2 separate regions of the Homo sapiens genome follow, and region 1 is linked to region 2. The links come from fine-mapping of genetic effects on gene expression. Tissue or cell type: stomach. Region 2 holds a variant in brackets; the other region holds the start of a gene. All regions are shown on one strand. Distances are between the middles of the regions.

What was found. PIP is the estimated chance that this variant, and not a neighbour inherited with it, causes the effect.
Region 1: LRRC8B starts here. The variant in region 2 is fine-mapped to the expression of LRRC8B in stomach (GTEx, PIP 0.95).

The regions. Positions count from the first base shown.
Region 1 is chr1:89,520,437-89,528,546 of GRCh38, reverse strand. LRRC8B (leucine rich repeat containing 8 VRAC subunit B) reads right to left here and starts at 3,718. Exons shown (of 6, transcript NM_001369817.2): 1 at 3,525-3,718. RefSeq lists enhancers at 1,690-2,191, 2,192-2,693 and a silencer at 3,395-3,854.
Region 2 is chr1:89,892,311-89,900,420 of GRCh38, reverse strand. All of the region lies in intron 2 of LRRC8D (leucine rich repeat containing 8 VRAC subunit D), which reads right to left. Among named protein-coding and RNA genes, the nearest start is that of LRRC8D-DT, 75 kb to the right of the region's middle. RefSeq lists a silencer at 5,897-6,191. The variant G/A (reference allele first, on the strand shown) is at 4,018.

The sequences.
Region 1 (8,110 bases), 370 kb after region 2:
AAAGTGATGGCACAGAGTTCAGAATCAGGCCTGTCAGTCTATGAAGTTTGTTCTCTTAGGTAAAACCTTGAAGAACTCTTGCTTGTAATTTGCAAGAGATTTTGAAAAGAGAAAAGTTTCAAAATGCTGAAAAGGAATTTGACAGAAGAAAATAAGGAAAGTTTGAATATGCTCTTAAATCTGCTACCTGAGAAGAAATCAAAAGGAATATGCTACTCAACAATAAAGAATGTGGTCTCCATGAGAGATGAGCAGAGGAAGATCTCAGTCACCTGCATGGAGCTGGATACGGAAGAGAAATAGAAGCTGTGCAGCTGGCAGCGTCTGTGAAATATGCTGTGCTTGTTAGCTGAAGAATAGGCATTGCAGAATGGAGCCCTGGAAATGGTCACAGGATGACAGATGAGAAGAAAGAATTTAAAGGGATTCTGAAATTTAAAAAAAGCAAGAGATGAAGTTTAAATATATACAGTCTAGAAAGAAACAAGCAGAATCACATGACCCATATCAAAAGCAGCAAAAAGGTCAGAAAGGCAAAAAGGAAAGGTCAAGGTTGAAGCCCTGACAACTCATTTTTATTCATTTCCTTTACTCAGGTTCACAGCAGCACTGAAGGAGTAAATGTAAATTGTGTGGCAATTGAGTAGAATCCTAAAGGAAAGGCAGTCATAGAACAGGGAGTTTATTGTTACCCTTTGTTCAATTTCTAAATGAACCACAGTGATAAGAACTTAGGAGAGAGATCAGTGATTGGAGCTAGGCCTAATTTTACTTAAGATCAACCTTAATGATCAGAAAAAGAAAAATAGGTTATTATGTCTGCCAAAGGCATTATTTTAAACACCAGAGAAATTAAGTCATAATAAAGGCATGTAGGAAGTTTAGAAAATACAGATGGGGAATAAAATGAAAGTAGGCAATAGCAATAAAAGGCAGCAATATGAAAACAGATATGACACAAATTAGAAGGTATTTTACAAATGGTTAAATAAATTCTACACTATAACTGGGTCTCCCAAATTCCTCTTGAATGGTCACAGGTCTGAACTGTTTGCTGATGTACCCAGTGCTCTGGGAGTCAGGATAGCAGTGGAGAACCTGCTCCATGCAAGGCAATGCAAATCATGCCACCAAGTGTGTAATAACATGACAGAATCAGAATGCATTCATTTCTAATAATATCAGGGTGTGGTAGAAGGATGCTGGGAAGGAGAAATAAGAGTAAAATTAGAGAATTCAACTTTAGAGACACCAAATGAAAATCCGGGATTGGGTTAAACAGGCTATGAATAGTAAAAAGTCCAGAAAACATAAAATACTCAGGTACTATTAGAAGAATTTGAAAACTAAAATACAAAAACAAAAACCCTTGTTTATAAGAAAAACATTGGCTAAAACAAGGATGTTCTAAATTGTAAAATATTTTTCCCCTTAAACTTCAGAAAACAACAAAAAATAACAAATTTCAGGCCACTACAGGAAAATACATGGATTAGTCTAAAAAACTTGGAAGGCTTAGTATCCTTTAAGTTTTATTAAGCCCCTTTTCATTTTACTTACTGTTGGTGTTTTCACTCTGAGGATTCTGAAAATTAAAATAGCAATGGGAAATGGTGATAGTGGTAGAGAAGAGGTTTAAAAAAGCAAATCTCAACTAGTCAAATGAAATCATTCAAAATGTGAAAAGATTCATAATAGGCTGAACATGTTGGAACACCTTACCAATTGAGGAAAAAGAGAACACATTTCAAAGAATGGTAAACTTAATTCCGACATGCAGATTTAAAAATGTTGTTGGGGATACTAAGTATAAGGAAAGTGCCATGACCCAAGGGTGCACTCAATGACAACATCACCCCCATTCAAGAGACCTCTTTTTAGCTTACAGAAATATCAGACATGTTAGGGCTTATATTCTAAAATTACACAGGCCCAATTACCTTGGGGGTTGGCTGTCACTTTATATTCTCTGAGTAGAGCTGCTGACAAGGAAAGCCAGGAGAAAAAGAAAGTCACCTCGGCACCCACAATTCAGAGAGCATTTGGGGTCACACCTGTAATCCCAGCACTTTGGGAGGCCGAGGTGGGTGGGTCACTTGAGGTCAGGAGTTTCAGACCAGCCTGGCCAACATGGTGAAACCCCGCCACCACTAAAAATATAAAAATTAGCTGGGCGTGGTGGCGGGCCCCTGTAGTCCCCGCTACTCGGGAGGCTGAGGCAGGAGAATCACTTGAACCCAGGAGGTGGAGGTTGCAGTGAGCCGAGATCGCACTACTGCACTCCAGCCTGGGCGACAGAGTGAGACTCCGTCTCAAAACAAAACAAAGAAACAAAACAAAGAGCATTTGGGGTTCTCAGGAGGTGTAGCCTGTACACATAGAGGGTACTGGAATTGTTTAAAAAATTACACTGCAGTTTGACTTCTTTTCCATCCTCACTCCTACACCTAGGTTTAGGGGACAGAACCATCTGATAAAGATAAATCTGTTTTAAGATTTCTGGGGTGTTCTGCAAAGACTACTATATCATTTGCAAATAGGTTGTCTTTTAATAAAAATCATGCTACGTAATGTCTTCTTAATATACGCTGAACAAATTGCCTGTTTTAATTTGGCTATATATCTACAATTTAAAATGTTCATACTGTTATCTTTTACCAGTGGAGTGTTTTTTTGTTTGTTTGTTTGAAGTCTTTAGGCGAAGTGAATTTATTCAAGGAAGTTCACATGTCGGTTTTGTTCTTTTAGAGGGGTGTCTTTTTGACCACAAAGAAAAAAAAAGTTTTCCACAAATGTCATCTAACTAAAGGCAATCTATGGACTTTAGGAAGTCAGTTGAGCACACAGATTAATGAGCCAATACTGAGCCTCCTCCCTTCTGACCTCTCAGCACCTGCTCAACTAAGCTCAGGGGAAACTCTTGAGTCTTCTTCTTAAATTGGTAACGCTTGCCCTTTCTTTCTCAAACAAATCAACGCCCAACACCACCACCAAATTATAGGCAACCAACGCGTATCCAACAGCATAAAATAGTTCCCAAGAGCATAAAATAGTTCCCAACAGCGCCAGCGCAGGGGGCAAAACAGAGCGACCAAATGGGGGCACCCTCAGGGGAGTTGCGCTCATCTGGAGCGAGACGCCAGCCTGGGAAAGCGGAACCCCTTTCCCGCCCCGCCCCGAGGACTCACGCTCAGGTGCAACGCCGAGACTCCCGGGGGAAAGAGAGGTGACCGTCTCGGCGCGACCGCCCACACCTCTTGCTCCAAATGACCCCAGCACACAGGAGAGGTCCTCTCAGCGTGGGACTCCGTCTCTCCCGAAGGCAGGGAGCACAACGAAGCGGCCACTCGTCTCTGCAGCCGCGCTACCGGCCCGCAGCCTGGCTCGCAGGTGAGGCGTGAACAGGTAACCGCACCTGTTCGGCCAGCCCCACCTGCTGCGTCCCCGTATCCGGTCCTCCTCCTCCACCACCTCGGTCGGCGCGGCTCGCCCTCCTGGAACCGGGGTGTCACGCTCCGACCTACCTGCGCGACTCCAGCCCCGGACGCCCGCGCTCCCCGCGGCGTGCTCCTGGGCCGCTCCGGGCGGGCAGGCTGCGGCCCCGCGCCCGCACTTTCCCGGCTGCCGGAGGCTGCGGGCTCAGCGGGAAGCCCCGGCGCTGTCCGGCTCGCCGCCTCCGACCGGCTCCATTGTGACGCGACGCGTTCCGCTGGCCAATGGGCGCTCGGCGGCGCGAACCGCTGACTAAGTTCGCGGGTGGAGGAGGAGGGGACGGGGCGGAGGCAGGGCGCGGAGGCGGCTACCACGGTGGTGGCGGTAGCAGTGGCGGAGGAGGAGGAGGAGGAGGAAGAGGAGGAAGAGGCTGCAGTCGCTTCGGTAGCTGCTCCTGCTGTGAATTTTTCAGCTGCCTGGGCCTGAGTGTTTGCCCAGCTCTGGGGCTGCGGGAGCCAGTGACTCACCTATCACTGCTGGAAACAAAGCGCAGCTGCCATCTCCCCGAGCGCGCCATGTGGCCATCGCTGCCCCCTCGCCCAGCCTGGGGTCCGCAGGAGGTAGCGCACAGCCATACGCCCCGCGGAGCAGCTGGAAAGAGCGGGGACTGCTTTCCAGAAGCGGGAGGGAAATGGGCTTCGGCGTGTCCCCCAGGCGCGCCACACCGGTGACTTCGGCACTACACCGCGTGTGTCGGGCCCCAGCCTTCTCACGTGTGCGTCCCTGAGTAACTTGGCATTTATATAACGCGTGTTGGGCCCTGAGGGAAAGGTCGGGTGCAGCACGCGGGAACCTCCTCTTCGAAAAGGAAGTCCCCTTACTTTTCTTTACCCTGCTTAGAAAGATTGCAGGGCCCAGCCTCTGTGAGGGAGGGTTTACAGTTGTACCAACTAAGCGGCTTAAGTTCGATTCTGGCCTTCCAATACCATTGGCTTCTCTCAAATGTCGTTATCCTCAGGATAGGGAGGGGACCACATGGCCGAGGGGCGGTCCCTATACTCATAACCTGCCTTTCACTGCGATTCAACTGCAGAGACACCTCAACTACTGCCCGCTTGCTTCTCTCCCAAGTGGCACTGCATTTGAAGGCCAACAATATTCCTTACGAAACAGAATTAATCCAAACCCACAAATTCTAGGGACATAAATATTTTTATCATCCTCATCCATTTCCCCACTCTCACCCTTACCCCAGTTTTAACTCAGTCTCTGCCCTGGCTATTATCTTGAGCACACTGATTCAATTAGGCAAGATTTATGTCTTTTAGTTGCTATGGTGGTCACATCTCCATTTAAAAAAAGAAAGAAAAAACAAGTTTGTACCGGCATCTCCCAAAGGAATAAAATGAAGACGAACAGACTCAGCATTTGGGGCATCTGAGCAGTTTGTGTAAATGGGAGTATAGCAAATGCCCTATCGAGTTAATATGAGACAAGAGTTGTGTCTCAGACTGTTCAGATGAGGACTACAATTTGAGTCACCCTGAAAGGGAAAAAGAAGGCTGTCTTTGTGTCACTGATCTGTTCTTTTCTTGTTCACTCAGTCCATTCTGGAACTGCAGATATCTTTTTTCTGAGTCTTGAAGGAAAAGCTGAAAGAACATTTCTTCACTTGGTCATTCGATAAATTTTTATTGAGTTTATATGTGTGAGACACTGGGTATGCACAGATCTACAAGTCTAATTTAAATTTAGGTTTGATCCTTACAGGAGTATCTGAAATTCTCTCAGGGACTTTCTGATTAATTATTTTTGGTAGAAGAAAATTCTAAAAGACTCTGTCACTACTTTCACAGCCAGATTTACCCAAGTCTAAAATAGTGATTAAAAATTCCATCATGGATTTTAAGCACCAAAAAAATGACAGGCAGGTCTCAATCGTTTTAGAGGTTTATTTTGCCAAGGTTAAGGACATTCCCCAGGAGAAAGCACAAATACAGGAACATCTGTGATCTGTGCCTTTTGCAAAGAGAGTTTTTGAGGACTTCAGTATTTAAAGGGGAAAGAGCCAGCAGGAGGGGAAGGAGAAAAGAAAGAAAAAAAAGGGAAATGGGAAGGTAGGCAATGAGGGAAGAAGTTACATTCTTGTGAGGCTTTGATTAGTGCCCAGTGAATTCACATTTTGCGTGTGAAGAGTGGGTAGAGGAATACTGATTATGTGTTCCTCTCATGCTCAGTAAATCTACATTTTACATAAGATAAATGTGAAAATAGGGGGAAAGTCAATTATGAATTTGTCTTGGGGTGGGCAGAGGGATGATTTCCAAGTCTTGTCCTTATACCATACATATGAAGATGAGCTGTTATTGTCAGAGTGAGATTCAACAGAACTGTGTTTTAGGGCTCATTTATAGGAGGGATATGCATTCTGAAAGATTTAGGGACCCACAAGGCATTTCACTGTAAGCAATTTGTGAGGGAGGCTATCTGGGGAGATATGTGGCCTTCTATTGTTGCAGCTACCTGGTAACAACAGAAGGCAGGTTTTTAAAATTTTTTTATTTTTTATTTTATTATACTTTAAGTTTTAGGGTACATGTGCACAACGTGCAGGTTAGTTATTTATGTATACATGTGCCATGTTGGTGTGCTGCACCCAGTAACTCGTCATTTAACATTAGATATATCTCCAAATGCTATCTCTTCCCCCTCCCCCCACCCCACAACAGGCCGTGGTGTGCGATGTTCCCTTTCCTGTGTCTGTGTGTTCTCATTGTTCAAGTCCCACCTATGAGTGAGAACATGCGGTGTTTGGTTTTTTGTCCTTGCTATAGTTTGCTGAGAGTGATGGTTTCCAGCTTCATCCATGTCCCTACAAAGGACATGAACTCATCCTTTTTATGGCTGCATAGTATTCCATCGTGTATATGTGCCACATTGTTGGACATTTGGGTTGGTTCCAAGTCTTTGCTATTGTGAATAGTGCTGCAATAAACATACGTGTGCATGTGTCTTTATAGCGGCATGATTTATAATCCTTTGGGTATATACCCAGTAATGGGATGGCTGGGTCAAATGGTATTTCTAGTTCTAGATCCCTGAGGAATCGCCACACTGACTTCCACAATGGTTGAACTAGTTTACAGTCCCACCAACAGTGTATAAGTGTTCCTGTTTCTCCACATCCTCTCCAGCACTTGTTGTTTCCTGACTTTTTAATGATCGCCATTCTAACTGGTGTGAGATGGTATCTCATTGTGGTTTTGATTTGCATTTCTCTCATGGCCAGTGATGATGAGCATTTTTTCATGTGTCTTTTGGCTGCATAAATGTCTTCTTTTGAGAAGTGTCTGTTCATGTCCTTTACCCACTTTTTGATGGGGTTGTTTGTTTTTTTCTTGTAAATTTGAGTTCATTGTAGATTCTGGATATTAGCCCTTTGTCAGATGAGTAGATTGCAAAAATTTTCTGCCAATCTGTAGGTTGCCTGTTCACTCTGATGGTAGTTTCTTTTGCTGTGCAGAAGCTCTTTAGTTTAATTAGATCCCATTTGTCAATTTTGGCTTTTGTTGCCATTGCTTTTGGTGTTTTAGACATGAAGTCCTTGCCCATGCCTATGTCCTGAGTGGTATTGCCTAGCTTTTCTTCTAGGGTTTTTGTGGTTTTAGGTCTAACATTTAAGTCTTTAATCCATCTTGAATTAATTTTTGTATAAGGTGCAAGGAAGGGATCCAGTTTCAGCTTTCTACATATGGCTAGCCAGTTTTCCCAGCACCATTTATTAAATAGGGAATCGTTTCCCCTCTTTTCTTGTTTTTGTCAGGTTTATCAAAGATCAGATGGTTGTAGATATGTGGCATTATTTCTGAGGGCTCTGTTCTGTTCCATTGATCTATATCTCTGTTTTGGTACCAGTACCATGCTGTTTTGGTTACTGTAGCCTTGTAGTATAGTTTGAAGTCAGGTAGCATGATGCTTCCAGCTTTGTTCTTTTGGCTTAGGATTGACTTGGCAATGTGGGCTCTTTTTTGGTTCCATATGAACTTTAAAGTAGTTTTTTCCAATAACAGAAAGCAGTTTTTTTAGTGACTCAGTTCCCAAGCTTAGCTTTTCTTTTGGCTTAGTCAGTTTGGGGTCCAGAGATTCCATTTTTGTTTCACAGCACTTATTTTGTGCCTAGCAGTGTGCTAGACATCATGGGTGATACCAAAGAAGCATAAAACTTGGTCCCTGACCCCAGCAGCCCACAACTTAGTTGAACACGGAAAACAATCAAGGGCATCTTCTGCTCAAAGGAAATGAAGATTGAATAACATGGGTGGAAGTAGTCAGAAAATGCATTATGGAGAGAAGGGAACTTAAACTTTTGAAACAGAAGCAGGATTTAGAAGGACTACATCCTTTACCTTTGCCTTATTGGCCCTAAACTTTATCTTAAAATAACCAGTCCAGCCTCCTGGCTCTTTTTGGCAAGCTGAGAATCTGGTGAAGAAGCCAATATGAAAATATTCTGTTTCTACAACATCTCAATAGGGTCTTTACACTCAGGTGATAAAGGGGATGAGAATGAACAGTAAGTGTGGCCAGTTCCTCTATCCAGTGACACAAGCAAAGTCACAAGTAATAGAAAATGAAACAATCACTACAATTTGGTCTTCTGGTGGTTGAATTCCATGAC
Region 2 (8,110 bases):
AAAACAGACGATGACTTTTTAACCTACATCTCTCACCACCTTTACCTTCTGAATCTTCCTTGATGCACTGTACCCAAAAGTCATTTCTCCCAGGGGAAAGCAAGAATTGAATAAAACACCATCAGCATTTGTAACACATCGTCCCTCTACCAGGTTCTCATCCACAGGCTTTTGCCCATTGCATTTCCTCTGCCTAAAGTATCCAGTTTTCTCCAATTTACCTTGTTAATTACCTGTCTTTGCCTGCCATCAGTGCCTATGGTAAGCCTTCCTGGAAATCTCTACACCAATAACCCAGTCCTTTTAATCCTCCCTTGATGCTCCCAGAGTATCCTGTGCATTTCTGCCCCTCTACACTCTCGTACAATTATCTGGTTTTGAGTCTATCTCCTTCACTAAAGCTGTAAGATTCTCCAGGGCAGGGATCATAATTCATTCACGTTTGTTTCCCCAGGGACTAGTATACTACCCAGCACATGGAAGGGGTGCAATAAATACATAGTTGTAAGACTTTATCACACATATTCTTTAGCTGAATCCTTAGAGTGATACTGCAAGGCAGGAATTGTTGGTCACATTTTACAGACAAAGAAACAAGCTCAGAAAGGTTTCAAAGGATCCCCAGGACCATCAGTTCTGACACCCTCTAGCTCCCAGACTAGATTTTCACTTTACTACATTATAATCATTTAACCATACAAGTTCCACATAGAAGACAAATCTGAAAGCATTGATCCTTTGATGTGGGCCTATACATTGTGACCTGCACAACTGAAGAACAGATGCACAAAATTTTCAAATGTGAGTGTAATTGTTCAAATTGTTCTAAAAGCAGGAATGATGATCAGCTAAGGTGATGCAGTTTACATTAATTCTTTCCTCAAGGTCCTCTCCATCCTAAAGCTCTGCAAAAATGTCTGGTGGACATGAATTACATACAAAGTTGATCTGGTTATTAAGTCACAAAACTGTCTCTGGTTAACTGCCAACACTGTCAGACATCTTCAAAGAGCCAGACATGGCACAGCAGCAATGGCTGGCGAACTAGAAGTAACTTGGATGTGGCTGATTTGACCATGCAGAAAAGACAGGTCACCGGCAGAATGGGATTGGTTTGTAACTTTGACCCTCCATGACCCTCTGGCACACTTGAGCCTCTCCTCAGCCAAAGAAAGTGGTTTTCAGCACAGCTGCACCCTAGAATAATGCGGGGTGGCCTCAGAAACTAATGTAATGCTAGGCCACACCCCCGGAGGTACCAACTTAGTGGACCTAGGGTAGGCCCTTGAATCTACACCTGAATTGTTGAAAAGTTCCTCTGCAACTGTAGTATGCAGCCAGAATGAAAGGCCTGGGTGTTTCCGAAGCTGAAGAGCTCATCTCGTTGATCTAAATTTAAGATGAAAAGCCCAACTGGAACACCTTTTGGAACTTTCCTTTCCTTTACATCCAGCGACATTTAAAACACTTAAGTAAACAGCCACTCAGCACATCACAGTATGGACACTGCTTTTGAGTTACTCAACACTGGCTTTCATAGAGATGGAAACACAACATTCCTCTACTCTATCTGGGAGATTTTCCAGCCCTTTCTGCACAAACATTTCTAATGACAGGAAATGTACTACCTTAAAAGGTACTTTGTAGTTGTATGCTTAGAACAGGTGAATATTACAGTATGTAAATTAAATCTTAGTAAAGCTGTTTGTGTATGTGTATCTGTGTTTAAGGTACTTTGCTTGATTTCGGGAACAGCACTTATTACAAGAAAGTTCTTTTGGATCAGTCTATGAAATTAACCGATCTCTCCTTTACACTCACTGATCCTAGCCTTGCTGCTGGGGCCACTCAGATTTAAGTCTAATTCCTCTTCCACTTGACTCTGAATTCAGGCATATCTGGGTGTGAATCCATTTACTAGCTATGTGATCCACAGCAAATGAGCTCTTTCTGAGCTTCAATGTCCTGATCCACAGGAAGTGAGAGTATTTCCTTCGTAGAATTTGCGAGGATTGGCAAGCATCTAATATCTGGAACATTGTGAGATGCTCAATGAATAACGCTTTCCTTCCCTTCCCCATAGAGGTGGAGTACAAGGCTAAACATCCACACGTAGATATTTCACGATTCCTCATCAGGTTGCGGTTTTCCATTTTTCACCATCCTCCCATGAATTGCTTTTAGATTTGATAAATGTGGTGGCCTCACTTCTACAGCATCAGTTAACTCTGGTACAATAACTGCAGTATACCAATGACTGCTTACTGGCTCGTATTCAATGTTTTAAAAGTTTTAGGAACCCAAGGTTTTTCCTCTCAGTATCGGCTGCCTGTGAGCACTAAACCACATACAGAGGTTCAGCCACATATCAGAGACATCTTTATTCAGCTGCTTAGGAGCGAGTATGGCGGTTAGGTGGGAATTCCTTCTGTTATCTGCTGTGCTAGGAGAGGTGGCCTCCAATTATCACACCATGACCATGCTGCTCCTTCCCTGTACCAGGCACTCACCGGGATGCACCTTGTCCCAGCCTCTACCTCCACTGCACCTCGGCTGCCCACCACTTTTATCTGTGATTCTGGGAGGGCAACATAGCACTGCAGAAATCAAATGAGATTTGGCTAAGGCAGACCAGTTCAAATCATGGTGTCCTCTCTCAGAGCAAACTATTGACCTTCAGCAAATCAGTTTTTTTTTCAGGTTATTAAAAATAACCTTTTTTAAAAAAAGTTAATATATGCCTGATAGGAAACTGAAAAACACAAGAAGCAAAGAACAAAGTTATCCACAATCACAAGCAGTTTACAGTTTGACGTGTCCTCCTAGGTCCTGCGTGTGTATAGACACAGCATCCAATTTAATGGGATTAAGATTGTGCAATATGTATCATGCTTTTAAACACCACATGAATATTTACCAATTCAAAATCTCAAATCTATGTAAGTATTTTGATAACCAAGAATATACTACACCAACTCAATCTGCTAGGAAAAAACATAATCTCGCCTTTCTTGTGACAAAAATTTCACAGAAGACAAAAATGGCAACAGGCCTGTAGATAAAAGCACTGGCAGAGTCCCGATTAAAATACTGTGTTCCCTTAATACTCAACCTAAAATGAAACCATAAAGCAACAGAATACACCAAGTATAATGTTTCTAAGATAATTCATTAACCGATCTATACTATTAAAATACTAGCAAGAAGGTATATTGCCACTGAATTACTTAAGGTATTCCTATAGCATAGCCAAGAGAGATGTACATACATCAATAGTTATCATCAAAGTGTGTATCTGAACACATCTGCATACTTCTCTTCCTTTGGATTTCCTTCTGCCCCTCTGGTCCCAAAGTAATGAATAGTTTCTAATACACTCTGCTGACTTCAAGTAAATTATTTAACTCTCTGAATATCAATCAGCACCCCCATCTGCAAAAACTGAACCACCACACCTTTCCAAAGGGATTATTATGACAATTAAATGATTATGCTGCAATAAAGTGTCTAGCCTAATGTCTAATGCACAATAGGCATCCAACAAGTAGTAATTTTTTTTGAGAATATGTGAATATGTTTATTTCGCACTATATAGATTTAGCTTGTTTATTAACAACTATGATTCACAAGAAAAGAGAGGAGACAGAGAGAGAGAAAGGGAGAAAGACAGAAAGGGAGAAAGAAAGAGTAATTATTATCATCACTAGTGTGATATGGCGATTTCCCGCTCTTAGACTGGACTCTGTCCTGAATGCTAATCTATTTGACTACAGTCCTGACCTCTGTGCTGGGTTCTCACTACCTTTGTCCTCCAGGGGTGGTAAACCCTGATCTTCACACAGGAGCTTGCCCTACCCTCGGCCTGAACACCCCTCACCTGTGTTAAGTCTTCACAGCCTCTCTCTCCCTGCCAAGCCACTGTGTGTATTTCTCAGCTACTCTTAGCAAACTCCCAGTGTGTAAAGTGTGCTGGGAGTCAGAAATCTGCATTCTAGGTCCTGCTTGGCCACTAGCTAC[G/A]TGACCACGAGCCAGGCACATAAACATTTTTATCTTGCTTCCCCTTCTGTGCAATGATGATGTCAGACGACACGATCTCTAAGGGCTCCTCCAGAACCAAAGTTTACGACCCCTCCCTTCCCCACCTCCTGGCCTCTTCCCATCTATCCTTTACCACCTTCATCCACCCCTCTACCCTCCCACTCACCCACAAGGGAGTCTTCAAGGCTGATCCTCTCCCCACACTCTTACCTCTGCTCCAAGTCCCGGCAATATGCCGTTATTGGCCATGTATTTATACAAAGCCACTTAAGCCATAGATTTTGGGTTGTTAGTCTGGAAACCTAAAACTCATGTATCATTTCTTGTCTATTAGAGAATGTATTTGTGGACATTACATTATATTAAGATGACAATGTCTAATAAAGGTTCTAACGCTTGCCTGTCAGGAGGAGACATATATTATGTAATATGTTTAATAAACATGTGCTGTCATACCTTTCCTTTTCTGATGTTTCCTATGGAAAAGTTTTCCCTGTAGAGCTGAGTATGCTACTCTGGAGTATCAGACTCAGAGACATTCTATCCTGGGCCTCACAAATTATACATAGATGTAAACTGCTTTAAGAAACATGATAAAGAGATTACTAAAATCATGAAAAAAATTGGTATGATTATTCATCTTCTTAGAGTTCTTTCAAGACATCTAAAAATAATTTAGCTTACAGAAGTTCAACGTCTCATCAACTTTTCAGAAGTTCAATTGTTGCCTAAAATGAAATATTATATATGAATAGAAACTTGAAGATATTTTAATTTTTAAAAGTACATGTCAAATTTGTTCACATAGAAAATTAAAAGTAAAAAAACAAACAGTACATCTTTAAAAGCAACATTATGCTACTTAGAAGATACATGTGGTACGTAGAAAAAAAATTATTACACATATATTTACACACAGTGTTTTGAGTTTGCACAGGGCTAACTCAAGTTGCCTTTGAAATTAAGCAGATATTTGAGATAAAATTACCTAGCTGGGAATTTTTCTGAGCCATTTGCTTGTTTATGATAGCTTGAAGAAAACATACCAAGTCTGCCAAATCTGTAAATACATAGGGATTTAAAACTCTTGTCAAATAAGAAAAATGAACAAATTTAAGGTCATCTAACAGACTTCATAATATATTATATGAATATAGTAGGCTTATCTTTTCTTGCGTAGTAATACAAAAGTCCTGCATGTGTTCCCAGTATGTTGATTTATTTTTAGGATAATGTAATAATTTTGTTTCCAAAAAATGTTAATTATCTAGCACACCTGTCTGTCCTCAGACAAGCAAGTACAGGAGTCAGTTAACACTGCTCACTGTAGGCACTGAGACATCAGCCTGCTTGCTTACTGAGTGATCAGTGGGTGGGGTGGGGGTGGGAGACCTTCACCTACAGACACACTTGGGTCATGGAATCTGACAATGAAAGAATATGAGCACTATTTGATAGTGTTGAAAGCACTCAGAACTTTCAACACTATGGCTGTCTCCGAACTTGACAGAATTTTCCGTATCACATCAGCCAATATTGTACTCACCCGTAAGATATGGAACACTTGTATCTTAAGGAAAGGAAAGAAACAACTATTTGAGTGGTGACTTATATTCCCTTTATGAAATTTACTTATGTCACTCACATTCCAATAATAGTAAGCATACATTATTTTTCTATATTTCAGCTTACTCAGTATTGTGCTGATGATGTACATGAACACTATCTTCTTGGTTTACTCTGTTCTCCATTCACTTTAGCCAAATAATGTCAGCAACCTTTCTTATACTACCTCTAAACCCAATGGGCTATGACTCTGTCCAATTTCCTAAAAGATTTAAGTTCAGCTTGCCTCCCTAAATTGCTATCTAAAAGAATGTTTAAGGGAGCATCTCAATTTCCTATGTTCTGAAAGTTAACACTCAGAGATAAACAGGAATCACATTTCTACTATACATTCCAGTTATCTTCAAGCATTTCCCTTCATACCCTTGTGCTACTGATGCCAAGAATGCTATGTGCTCGGCTCACTCTCAGATGGAGAGTGAGTAATATGGGGCTGTCTTAGTCTGAACTGCTATTACAGATTACACAGGCTGGGTGCCTTAAATGACAAACATTTATTCCTCACAGTTCTGGAATCTGGAAATCTAAGATCAGGGTACCAACACAGCCGAGTTTGGTGAGGGCCTTCTTCCAGATTGCAGACAGCTGACTTCCCTGTCTATCCTCACATGGTGAGAAAAGGGCAGGAGAACTCTCTGGGGTCCCTTTTATAACAGCATGAATCCCATCCATGAGGGCAGAGCCCTCATGCCCTAATTACTTTCCAAAGGCCCTACCTCCTAATACCATTACACTGGGGTTAGGATTTCAACACTTTGTGGGGGACATAAACACTTAGTCCATAACAAGAGCCCTCTGCTTCCAGCATATATTGCTCTAATGAGAGTTATCAGGTAAGGGTTTAGCACATTTTAATCTCAAGTCAGTCAAAAACTCACATCACCAATTATCTGCAAATACAGAACAATTAAAATGGTAATTAAATTACTCCAGATATTCATCTAAAAAACTCTTTAGTTTCCACTATGCTCTACTGAAAAAAGAGTAAGTCTGCAATCATCAAGAGGTCTTAAGTCTAAAAACCAACTGCATGTCTCAAGGCATTTTACACTACTATCCAGTATAAAAGACATTCTAAAATACTAGATATTAAAGCATTCAGAACAATAACGTATGTCCCATTACAATATAGATGGGTTCCACTGTATCTACTTCAGGGAAAAAATGTATGCTTGGGAAAACAAGAGCATTCTTATCAATCTTGAAAATGCATAATTTCCAGTATTTTCTGTTGTTTTGTTTTCAGAATACTTTGTTCCTGGGGAAATATGCTAATTCCCTTGCAATTCTGGTCTACCTTTTTTTTCCTAGTTAAATGAGCAAATAAAGTCAAATTTTAAGCATGAAGTTAGATGCTTTCTAGGAAAAAAGTGATAACGAATATTTTTCAAGTAACTGAAAGCTATAACCATGTTTTCGCCCACTGGCTGCCCTTCAGTTCTTTGAATATGCCAAGCTCACCTGTATCTCAGGACCTCTGCACGTGCTCATCCCTCTGCAGGACTGTTCATTCCCCAGATCTTCTCATTGTTCCCTTCTTCTCAACACTCCTGCCCTAGCTCAGCTGGCACCTCTTCATTGAGGCCTTTCCTGATTAGTCCCCATCTCATTTCATTTCTTCATAGCTTTTACAGCTATTTTATATTATCTTGTTTATGTTTTTGGTTGCTTATGGATCCACAAGCTGAGATCCTGTCTATTTTGTTCACACTCTATTCTCAGCACCTAGGACAGTACCTGTCATATAGATGTTTATAGATTATCTGTTTAATAAATAAATAAATGAATGAATGAACAAATTAACCACATGTCAACTGAAAGCTGAGGACATGTAATTTCAAATAAACTTTGTCTGATTGAATTTTACTTGATTTCAAGAAAGTTTTAACAAAGTTACATATAATAACCTTGTGAATTTGACAGAAATATCAATCTACGGCCAGGCACAGTGGCTCACGCCTGTAATCCCAGCACTTTGGAAGGCCGAGGTGGGTGGATCATGAGGTCAGAAGATCGAGACCATCCTGGCTAACACAGTGAAACTCCGTCTCTACTAAAAAATACAAAAAAATTAGCTGGGCGTGTTGGCGGGCGCCTATAGCCCCAGCTACTCAGGAGGCTGAGGCAGGAAAATGGCGTGAACCCAGGAGGCGGAGCTTGCAGTGAGCTGAAATGGTGCCACTGCACTCCAGCCTGGGCGACAGAGCGAGACTGTCTCAAAAGAAAAAAAAAAAGGAAATATCAATCTAGTGACGGTTCTGTAGATTCCTTACAGGTCAAATGACTGCACCTAGAGTGCTAAATAATGCCAAGCGGGGAACTTGGTCCTACCTTATCCCACACTGTTATCAATCATTTGGAAGATGAAAAATTTTAAATCACACAATGCTGAAAAGGATAGCAAATGGGCTGGGGAACAGAATCAGGTATCAAAAAGATCTCCATA